Regions from separate parts of the Homo sapiens genome. Here region 2 is reported to be linked to region 1. Evidence: microRNA targets listed by miRTarBase, many of them from high-throughput screens and not tested one by one. Region 1 holds a microRNA gene; the other region holds the end of a gene's coding sequence.

What was found. The annotated mature microRNA hsa-miR-208b-3p reads AUAAGACGAACAAAAGGUUUGU and lies in region 1 at 1,770-1,791, opposite strand. An mRNA with a match to its seed (bases 2 to 7 or 8) in the 3' UTR can be bound and repressed. Matches are read on the target gene's strand: a 7mer-m8 pairs with bases 2 to 8, a 7mer-A1 pairs with bases 2 to 7 and ends in A, and an 8mer does both.
Region 2: the mRNA of GXYLT1 is a reported target of hsa-miR-208b-3p. The part of its 3' UTR that is shown has no 7-base or 8-base seed match.

What each region holds. Positions count from the first base shown.
Region 1 is chr14:23,416,228-23,420,614 of GRCh38, forward strand. MIR208B (microRNA 208b) reads right to left here and starts at 1,836; the gene lies at 1,760-1,836. MYH7 (myosin heavy chain 7) reads right to left here. Exons shown (of 40, transcript NM_000257.4): 27 at 3,618-4,007; 28 at 3,256-3,382; 29 at 2,950-3,068; 30 at 1,983-2,179; 31 at 1,276-1,459; 32 at 926-1,091; 33 at 641-765; 34 at 1-85. It overlaps MHRT (myosin heavy chain associated RNA transcript), which reads left to right. Exons shown (of 6, transcript NR_126491.1): 3 at 1-70; 4 at 689-781; 5 at 985-1,146; 6 at 1,306-1,368. RefSeq lists an enhancer at 1-218.
Region 2 is chr12:42,083,808-42,088,194 of GRCh38, reverse strand. GXYLT1 (glucoside xylosyltransferase 1) reads left to right here. Exons shown (of 8, transcript NM_173601.2): 8 at 248-4,387. The coding sequence ends at 409. It also overlaps the pseudogene LOC101929308. Among named protein-coding and RNA genes, the nearest start is that of GXYLT1, 59 kb to the left of the region's middle.

The sequences.
Region 1 (4,387 bases):
CCAGCTTCCGCTCGATCTCTGCCTTGATCTGGTTGAACTCCAGCTGGGCCCGGAGGATCTTGCCCTCCTCGTGCTCCAGGGAGGCCTGGGAAGGGGTTGGGGGAGGGGATGCAGGCAGACAGTCAGGGCACAGGGCAGGGTGGGGGCCTGCTCACTAATCATGGATACGAAGTGACTTCAAGAGTGGTGTAAGTGGTTCAAAGAAGCAGAAGGTGGAGGAAAAGAGAATCTAAGAGAAAATAAAAATAAGCCTAAGAGAAAGTGATTCAGGCCCTCACAGGGGAGAGCCAGCTATGAAGACAAGGAGGAAAATGAAGAGAAAAGTGTTGCCAAGGAAACAGAGGCAATCAGGTATAGAGTATAAAAGAAAACAGAGGGAGGCAGAGGTGGGAACCGGGAGGTATGTGGAAATGGGAAGCTCAGCTAAGATGCAATGGGTAAAATGTTTATGTGAAGAGAGTTCAGTGACTGGTCATTCATTCACTCCACAAATCTTCACTGAATGCCTACTATGTGCCAGGCTCTGTCCTAGGCTCTGGGGATGGGACAGTGAACAAAACGGACAAAGCGGGGGATGAGAACAGGGACCAAAAGCCTGGAGCTCAGCTCCCTGCACCCCGTGCCCTGCACACACACACACCTCGGCCTCCTCCAGGGCTGACTGCAGCTCCATCTTCTCGGCCTCCAGCTGCTTTCGGACCTTCTCCAGCTCATGGATAGTCTTTCCGCTGGAACCCAACTGCTCAGTCAAGTCGGAGATCTCCTCTGTGTGGGGAACACGGTAACTCGGTTGAGGGCTGCTGAGGTCCAGTGGAGTTGGAGGGACACGCCTCTTTGCCCAGACGCCTCTTGGAGCCCTTGGGTGGCACCATATGGGAACACTGCCAGTGCAGCCCCTCCCCAGCCTCTTGGGCCCCCAGCACACCCTGCAGGTTTTTGTTCTCCCGCTTGAAGGTCTCCAGATGTTCCAGGGACTCCTCATAGGCGTTCTTGAGTTTGAAGAGCTCTGTGCTGAGGGAGCGAGCCTCCTTCTGCGAGGACTCCAGCTCCGACTGCGACTCCTCATACTTCTGCTTCCACTCGGCCAGGATCTGCCCGGGGACAAGGCTCACTCTTCAGCCCCCCAGCCTCAGCCCCATGTCCAGGGTCTGTCTCAGGACCTGCCTGGGCTCAGCCCTCCTCCCCCACCTCCAAGGAGGATGGCTCTGGCCTCTCACTGAACCCCTCATGCCCCCTTGCCCTGCATGCTGGCTGCGGCCCCCACCCAGGGCCCACCTTGTCGAAGTTCCTCTGCTTCTTGTCCAGGGCTGCAGCAGCAGCATTGGAGCGCTCTACGTCCACCATCAAGTCCTCGATCTCATTCTGTAGCCGGTGCTTGGTCTTCTCCAGCGAGGAGCACTTGGCATTAACAGCCTCCACGGCCTCCTCAGCTTCCTGCAGCCGCTGGGCCAGCTTCTTCCTGCCCAGGGGAGGGTGGCAGAGGGTGGGGAGGATGGAGGGTGTGGATGGGGACAAGAGGAAACAACATGAACCTTCTCAAAGACAATCCTTGAAACCTCAGAAGTGTAGCTGGAGAAGCCTGAGGACAGGTCCCAGGGGCCGAGAACATCAGGCAGAGGATCCCAGCAGGGCGTGGAGACCCAGGCACCCTCTGACCCTGGCCCAGCCTCTGCGCTATGGACATTGAGGAGGTATGGGCTTCTGCAGCCCTCCCCACTGCCTTTCCCTGCCACAGTGCCCTGCCCCAGACGGAAGCACTCTGCCCTCAGACAAACCTTTTGTTCGTCTTATATTCGGATCAGAAACATAATTCGAGCAAAAAGCTTCCCTGAGAGGAGAAGGAGGTGGGGCCGGGGCAGAGTCCTCCTGTGTTGTCAAACACTAGCTAAGCATCGCCTGTGTGGGATCTGCTGAGGCTGGGGCTGGGCTGAGTCCTGCCTGCAAAGGGGCCTCAGCCAGAAGTCAGGCTGCTCAGAACTCACTTGGCCTCCTCGAGCTCCTCAGTCCGCTGAATGGCGTCCGTCTCATACTTGGTCCTCCACTGGGCCACCTCCGAGTTGGCCTTGGAAAGGACGCGCTGCAGCTCGGCCTTGGCCTCCGTCTCCTCCTCGTACTGCTCCCGCAGCAGGTCGCAGTCATGCCGGGCCGACTGCAGTGCGTGGGCCAGGGCGTTCTTCGCCTGGGGAGGGGTGGGCACCAGGAGGTGGGTTCAGCTTTCTCCATAAAGCAACCCCACCCTTGCCCTTCTCCTCACCCCAATCTCAACATCATCCCTTGGCCTCATCTATGTCCAAACCCCCAGTGGACCTGTCATGGTTTACTGTTTGCTGATAACAAAGAATGCCAATACAGCAGTGAACTATTTAAGAAAAGCTTCATGGCCATTGGCCCTGAGCTCCTCCCCACACCAGACATGGTCATCATCACCGCCATTTTACCTGGCTGGGGAGAGGGAAACAGGCTCAGAAAGGTTAGGGGACTTCCCTAACCTAAGATCACTGAGCTATAAGAGGCAGGTTAGTATGAACCCTGGAGTTTTTTAAAAATCATGTTCTTTCTCCTTTTTCATGAGTCCAGCAAAGTGCTAGGAATAGGCTCCAGTTGAATTTCTTTCTCCAGTTTTCAGGTGGCCCTGCAAATCCCAGGACCCATTTGTGCAGTCCCTACATCCCCTAGCCGTGCCCGGGCAAGGCCATCTCGTGCCTCCCTAGTTCATTTTCTCTCCTCCTTCTCACACCCTGCCTCCCGTCCAGGGATGCAGCAGAAGCAGAGGGCCTCAGCCTGGGGAGTAGATGGCATGTGGCAGGGTTTGGGCTGTGATTTCTTTTTAGAATTCTTGGAGAACTGTTGGTCCACAGCCAGCCTTATTGCTGGGAAGGGAAGTGATTTGATGCAAGGCTAGTCAGTGTGCTCCTTGCTTGGGCCAGGTGGCCCGAGTCTAGCCCTTACCTTAACCTCCTCCTCCAGCTGCCTCTTGAGGTCCTCCAGCTGCTGGGTGTAGGTGAGCTTGCCTCGGGTCAGCTGGGAGATCAGTGCCTCCTTCTCATCCAGCTGCCGGGACAGCTCACCTGGGGAAGCACCATTCTAGATCAGCACTCCTCTCTATCCCCACCTCCTCCTCTAGCCCTCAGGCCCCATTTTCTGGAGAGACTCTGTGTCTGTGTGTGCGTGTATTGGCTTGTGCCCGAGGCTGGAGTGGCTCAGGAGGTTGGGGAGACTGTGGTGGGAACCATGGAGCCCCTGCTCTAGGCTCACCATTCTCGGTTTGCAACTTGGCCCGCTGGCTGGTGAGGTCGTTGACAGAACGCTGGGTCTCCTCCGCCTTGCTCCGGTGCTCATTCATCTGGTCTTCCAAGGTCCGGCACATCTTCTCCAGGTTAGCCTGAGAAGGGAAGGAGAGTTATATGATGGATGTTGGGGGCGGGGGGAATGAAGGGGTGTAAGAGGTGCAACTGAAGGAGAAAAGAAGAGGGAAGGTGTGAAAAGAAGGAGGGGATCTGAGAACCAGGCAGAGGAAGGGAAGTGGGAAAATGAACCATGAAGGAAGAGACACTACATGGACAGAAAGGGGAGGTGGGAGGAGGAAGTTGGAGGAGGGGAGGCCGAGCAGAGCCTGCCTTGGCCTTGATGATCTGCTCCATGTTGGAGGTGACGTCATCCAGCTCCAGCTTGAACTCGCTCTTCTCCTTCTCCAGCTTCTGCTTCACCCGCTGCAGGTTGTCGATCTGCTCGCCCAGCTCGGCCACGCTGTCGGCGTGCTTCTTGCGCAGGGCCGCGGCAGTGGCCTCGTGCTGCAGCGTGGCCTCCTCCAGGTCCCGCCGCATCTTCTGGAACTCGGCCTCGCGCTTCTTGTTCATCTCGATCTGCACGGACGTGGCCCCGCCGGCCTCTTCCAGCCGCTCGCTGATCTCCTCCAGCTCCCGAGACAGGTCTGAGCGCAGCTTCTCCACCTTAGCCCTGGCGGTGCGCTCGGCCTCCAGCTCCTCCTCCAGCTCCTCGATGCGTGCCTGGTCAGACACAAAGGGCTCAGACCCACCGCCTGGACCCCTCCACTGGAATCCCCCCGGCTCTAAAAGGCTCTCGGCTTCTCTGGAACAGCAAGTCAGTTTAGCTCTTCCAGTGGAGAGGTGGGAATTAAAGGATTTGGGGAAGATAGTTTGAAGAGCCTTCCTTTAGGCGAGGGCCTGACAGTCTACATGCTCTTTATTGGAAGGAAAGTGGTTGAAACTTGCTCTTAAAGATGGACAAAGAGACCTGTGTTCTGGGGATATTTTAAGCAGTTTAGTCATAAAAAAATAACAAAAGTTGAAAATGAGAGAGCCGTATTTGTCTGACCAGACAACTAAAGACCTAACACAGCTTCTGCTCTAGAGTAAGGAGGAAAGTC
Region 2 (4,387 bases), not on the chromosome of region 1:
AGTCTTCTCTGCCCTTGCGCATGTTCTCCAGGATTCCCCCGGAGATTTACCATGGCTGTCTTTCTTTAATGGGAGATAATAGTTCTGTTTAATTTATTGAAAATATTTGTTAAACATCTAATTTCTGTGAGACGTTAAATGGAGATCGTTCATATTAAACTGATTGAAGAAGTTTGGAAAATAATTGAACTTACATATGTACCTTTGCCTTTTAAATTTTTTATTTTTTAAAATTTTCTTTCTCTAGTGTTCTTTTGAAGATGACAACATCCGTTCCTTATTAAAACCTTTAGAACTGGAACTACAAAAAACAGTGCATACATACTGTGGAAAAATTTACAAAATATTTATCAAACAACTAGCAAAAAGTGTAAGAGATCGTTATGCCAGATCACCAAAGGAAAAGTGATTCTTGGTGACTGCTTAATCAAATGGATGAAAACAAAGAATCAGAAGATAAGTGTGAAGGAATCGTCTTGGATGAAGTATTCAGGAAGGAATTACTCATCTCCAGAATAATTTTTTTTTTCCTAAAGAAGTTAAGTAAGCAGTATTTTCAGGTAATGAAGAATAAGTTAAAATCTTGGGCCTCAACATTGAACATTTTTTATCTCTGATGTTTTGTAATGTTACTTGCTATCATTCCAGTATTGATGAAAATACTATTGAATGGGTTTAACCTGCAGACTTCTGTTGACTCATACTCTCAAGAGTGGTAGGGGTGTGTAGATGGAGAAAATGTACCTCAAACAGTGCCAACACTCAAGACTGTGAGTAGAGCAATAATTTTATGTCAGCACTAACCTCACTTTAAAAGTGTGAGAAAAAAGTTTGTTTACAGGAGCAGAAACAGGTCTGTTGTTTCTGAAGAAATGTGATGTAACTGATGTAACCATTGACAATCTATGTGTGCCTTTATACATTTCATCTCTGTTTTAAAATATTTTTATGACAATCATGTTTAAAATTATTTTTAGATTACAAGTAAGCTGCATGTTAAAAATTGAGCTGTGTAAGGTAGAGGAAAAATAGTGAAAACTTTGGGATTTTAATCTGTGTGTGCGTGTTTGTGTGTGAGAGAGAGTGAGAAATGTAGTGTTTCATTTTGTATGCATTAAACTGTCTTGCCAAAACTCAGATCTAAGATTGTTAAATAGATATTTGGGGAATTTTTTTTTAATCACTTTAAATGAAAAACGTCAGCTTTACTGGGCATTCTGGAAGCAAAATATATTATGCTGATGGTAAAGTGAGAACCTTAAGAGTATACTCATGATGGTGGAAAGTGTGATGGACCAAAATGCATAAGCTATATACTTCCTGTGAGTAGTAATTTTAGTTACAATGGAGTAGAAAAATATGGTCCATTTAAACTTGTCTTCTACCTCATAACGGCCTTGCAAGATACTTTTGAAGAAGCAAATGTCTAGAGCCTTACTTTAAGTAAGTTAAACAACTTAAGTGGATGATTTGGAATAAGATTGTTACATCCAGCTGTAGAAAATGTGGTTTTAATTGGGTTGATGTGCATTTTTGAATATCACCTAAGACAGTTAATTTTTTTAAATCTTGAGAAATTACTTCTTTGGCATTCTTGACCTGTTAGCTAATATAACTATAGATTCTGAATACTTAGCATATACTATGCTGGGGCACATATCTTATTTTACCAACAATATGATTATCTATATGGTTATCTTCTTTTTCTCCCTGATATTTTAATGCTCAAGTAGAAAATGGAAAATCATGAAGGAAAAATACAACCTGTGAAAATTGTGGCAGTTAGCTTTGTGAAGACACAGTGACCTCTGTGGAGACATGGAATATGCAGAAAGAGATGGTTAGTACAGTTGTTCTGTCGTCTGCAGTTCAGTCAGGGACAAATTGAGAGAGGAAAGTTTAAGCAGGGTGCATTAGAAGTTGATAACCAGTCCAGCATTCTTAGAACAGATGGGTTTAGAGAACACGAGTTGTAGTTCCTTGGCAGAATGCCATGGTGAATATAAGAAACTGTGAAATTGAGCTTACTGAGTAGAAAATGAGAATACTAAAAATGTGAAGTTTGGAGGGTATGTATTAGATCATTTCTAATGGTCCTCAAATAATGATCATTGCCTGCCTGACTATGTAAGATTCTTGTTGGGAGCTTAAGAATAGATTCCTGAGCTAGGCCTTTGGAGACTCTGGCATGCTGTGTCTAGGAGGGAGTCTGTAAAACAATTTTTAATGAAGAAATTTAAAAATTACACAAAACTAGAATAGTGCATTGGTACTCAACATCCAGATCTGACACTTATCACTATCTTACCATGTTTGCTTCATTTGTCATTTTTTTGTTTGCTTAAGTATCTTAAAATCCCATACATTGTGTTATTTCACTGCTGTGAACACTTTGGGTAGATACCACGATATCACACCTAACAGAGGCAGCAGCAGTCCTTCGGCTTCATCTCATAGCCAGTCCTTAAGCAAATTTCCCTGATTATCTCAAAAATCATCTTCTAGTTGGTTTGTTAGAATCAACAGAATATAAGTCACATGATGATTTCGTTTTTAACAATCACCTCAGATGACTTTGATGTTAGCTACTTTGAGAACCACTGGAAATTATTTTGCCAACTTGAAAGTTCAAGTTAGGATACCACAATTCTTGGCACGTTTGGTGGATTATAAATGTGATTTTGAAATATTAGAGGAAGCATTTGGGGTTAATGACAGGATATGAATTTATATTAGTAAGTTTGATAAGATAAAATTTCCTCAGTGAACGGAGAATCTCAGCCCCATGGGCTCTAATTGATTGGGACTTGTGTAGAGCGTGGTCACAGTTTAATCCAACTGGACTGTATGCTGTGGTCTCACTCATGTTGTGGCTTATTTACACTGTCACACACACTACATTGTGGATCAGTTGGAAGGTTCTTCATCTGGTTTATTTAGACCTGACCTAATTGATCATTTTACCATAAATTGAATTATAGTGAAAACTGTCTTTTGGGTACTGTTTCTACCTAAAATTAAAGGTATCACAAAATATGTATAATAATTTTTAAATGAATTTTCTGAATTTATCTTTAGACAAGGTAATTCTTTTGAATTCTAAAGAAATGCAGTTCTTGGAGTTGATGAGAGGTTAAATTATAGATGGACAACTTAGAGAACGTATTCCATCTTCATATAAATGGTCTTTCATAAAACATAGTGTATCTATGCAGTTTATATAAACTACATGATTTATTATTTGAGTCTATGTATTCTGACCTCAGAACTATCTCTGGGCTACAGTATTACCAAAGTGGGATGCCTTTAAAATGCAGTCAAACTTCATTTGTATGAAGTAGAAAAGAACTTGGGAAACCTTTAAAAATATATATTGTGATTTATGCTTTAAGAAAATGCATACTTTTTTCTAATGAAGAGTAGTTCATAATATATAAGGGTTTTAAGGCCCTGAAATAACATTAGTGCTTACTCATTGCTCTCTCATCTTGCCTCCAGTCAGATGTTATTGGTATAGTGAAAAGAAGACCAGATTTTGAACTAGATCTGGATTCTCTTTTTAGTAACTCAGGCATGTTATTTACCCTTCTCTGTGCCTTAGGTTTTTAAGTACAATCAGTGTACCCTTCAAACCTCACAAGATGAAACTCAGAAGAGATAATGGATTTGGAAGCATTTTGCGTGGCTTATATTATGCCACGCCAGTGTTACTGTTGAAGTTCTGTTTTGTTCGTTGTTTTCTGTACAGAGCGTTCAGTTTACTCAGGCTGAATGTTTTCTGACATATATCTCCAGTATGAATTTGTTTATGTAAGGAAGAGTTTTTCAGGAAGAGAAAGTAGAGAAGAAAAGAATGATGTAACTAAATCAAAAAAGAAGGAAAAGAGAGGAAGTGAGAAAAGGGGTGAGGAAAGAGAAAGGAGTAAGAATGGGGATGGCAAAGGGCAGAGTAAGAGAAAAGATGGAATGAGTGTATGGAAAATTGAGAAGTAGAGATGGAGAGAAATGGTGTGGAAACATTTACTTTTTGAGTTGTAGCCCTCACACTACATCAGTTTGCTTGCCTGGGCTCTCTGGGGTCAGGAAAGGTGCTGACTTCCATGGAATGGGGCAGCAGGGCCTGCTGTATTTGGTTTGTTAGTACTAGAGTTGTTTCCCAATCACCCTACTCACTGATCATTTAGTGCCAATTCAACATTTTATGTCTTTTTTTTTTAGTGGATCCCAGTTTGTGAGCTAGGACCTGTGGAAATACAAGTATCTTCCTTTTTAACTTTATTGTTTTAGCCATCCCAAGTGTTAGACTGCAAGACTAACTACATATTCCCCAGTGGAGGTTGGAAGTGGAGGGGACTGCTTCATTAGGTCTGAAGGGGGCCAAGGAATG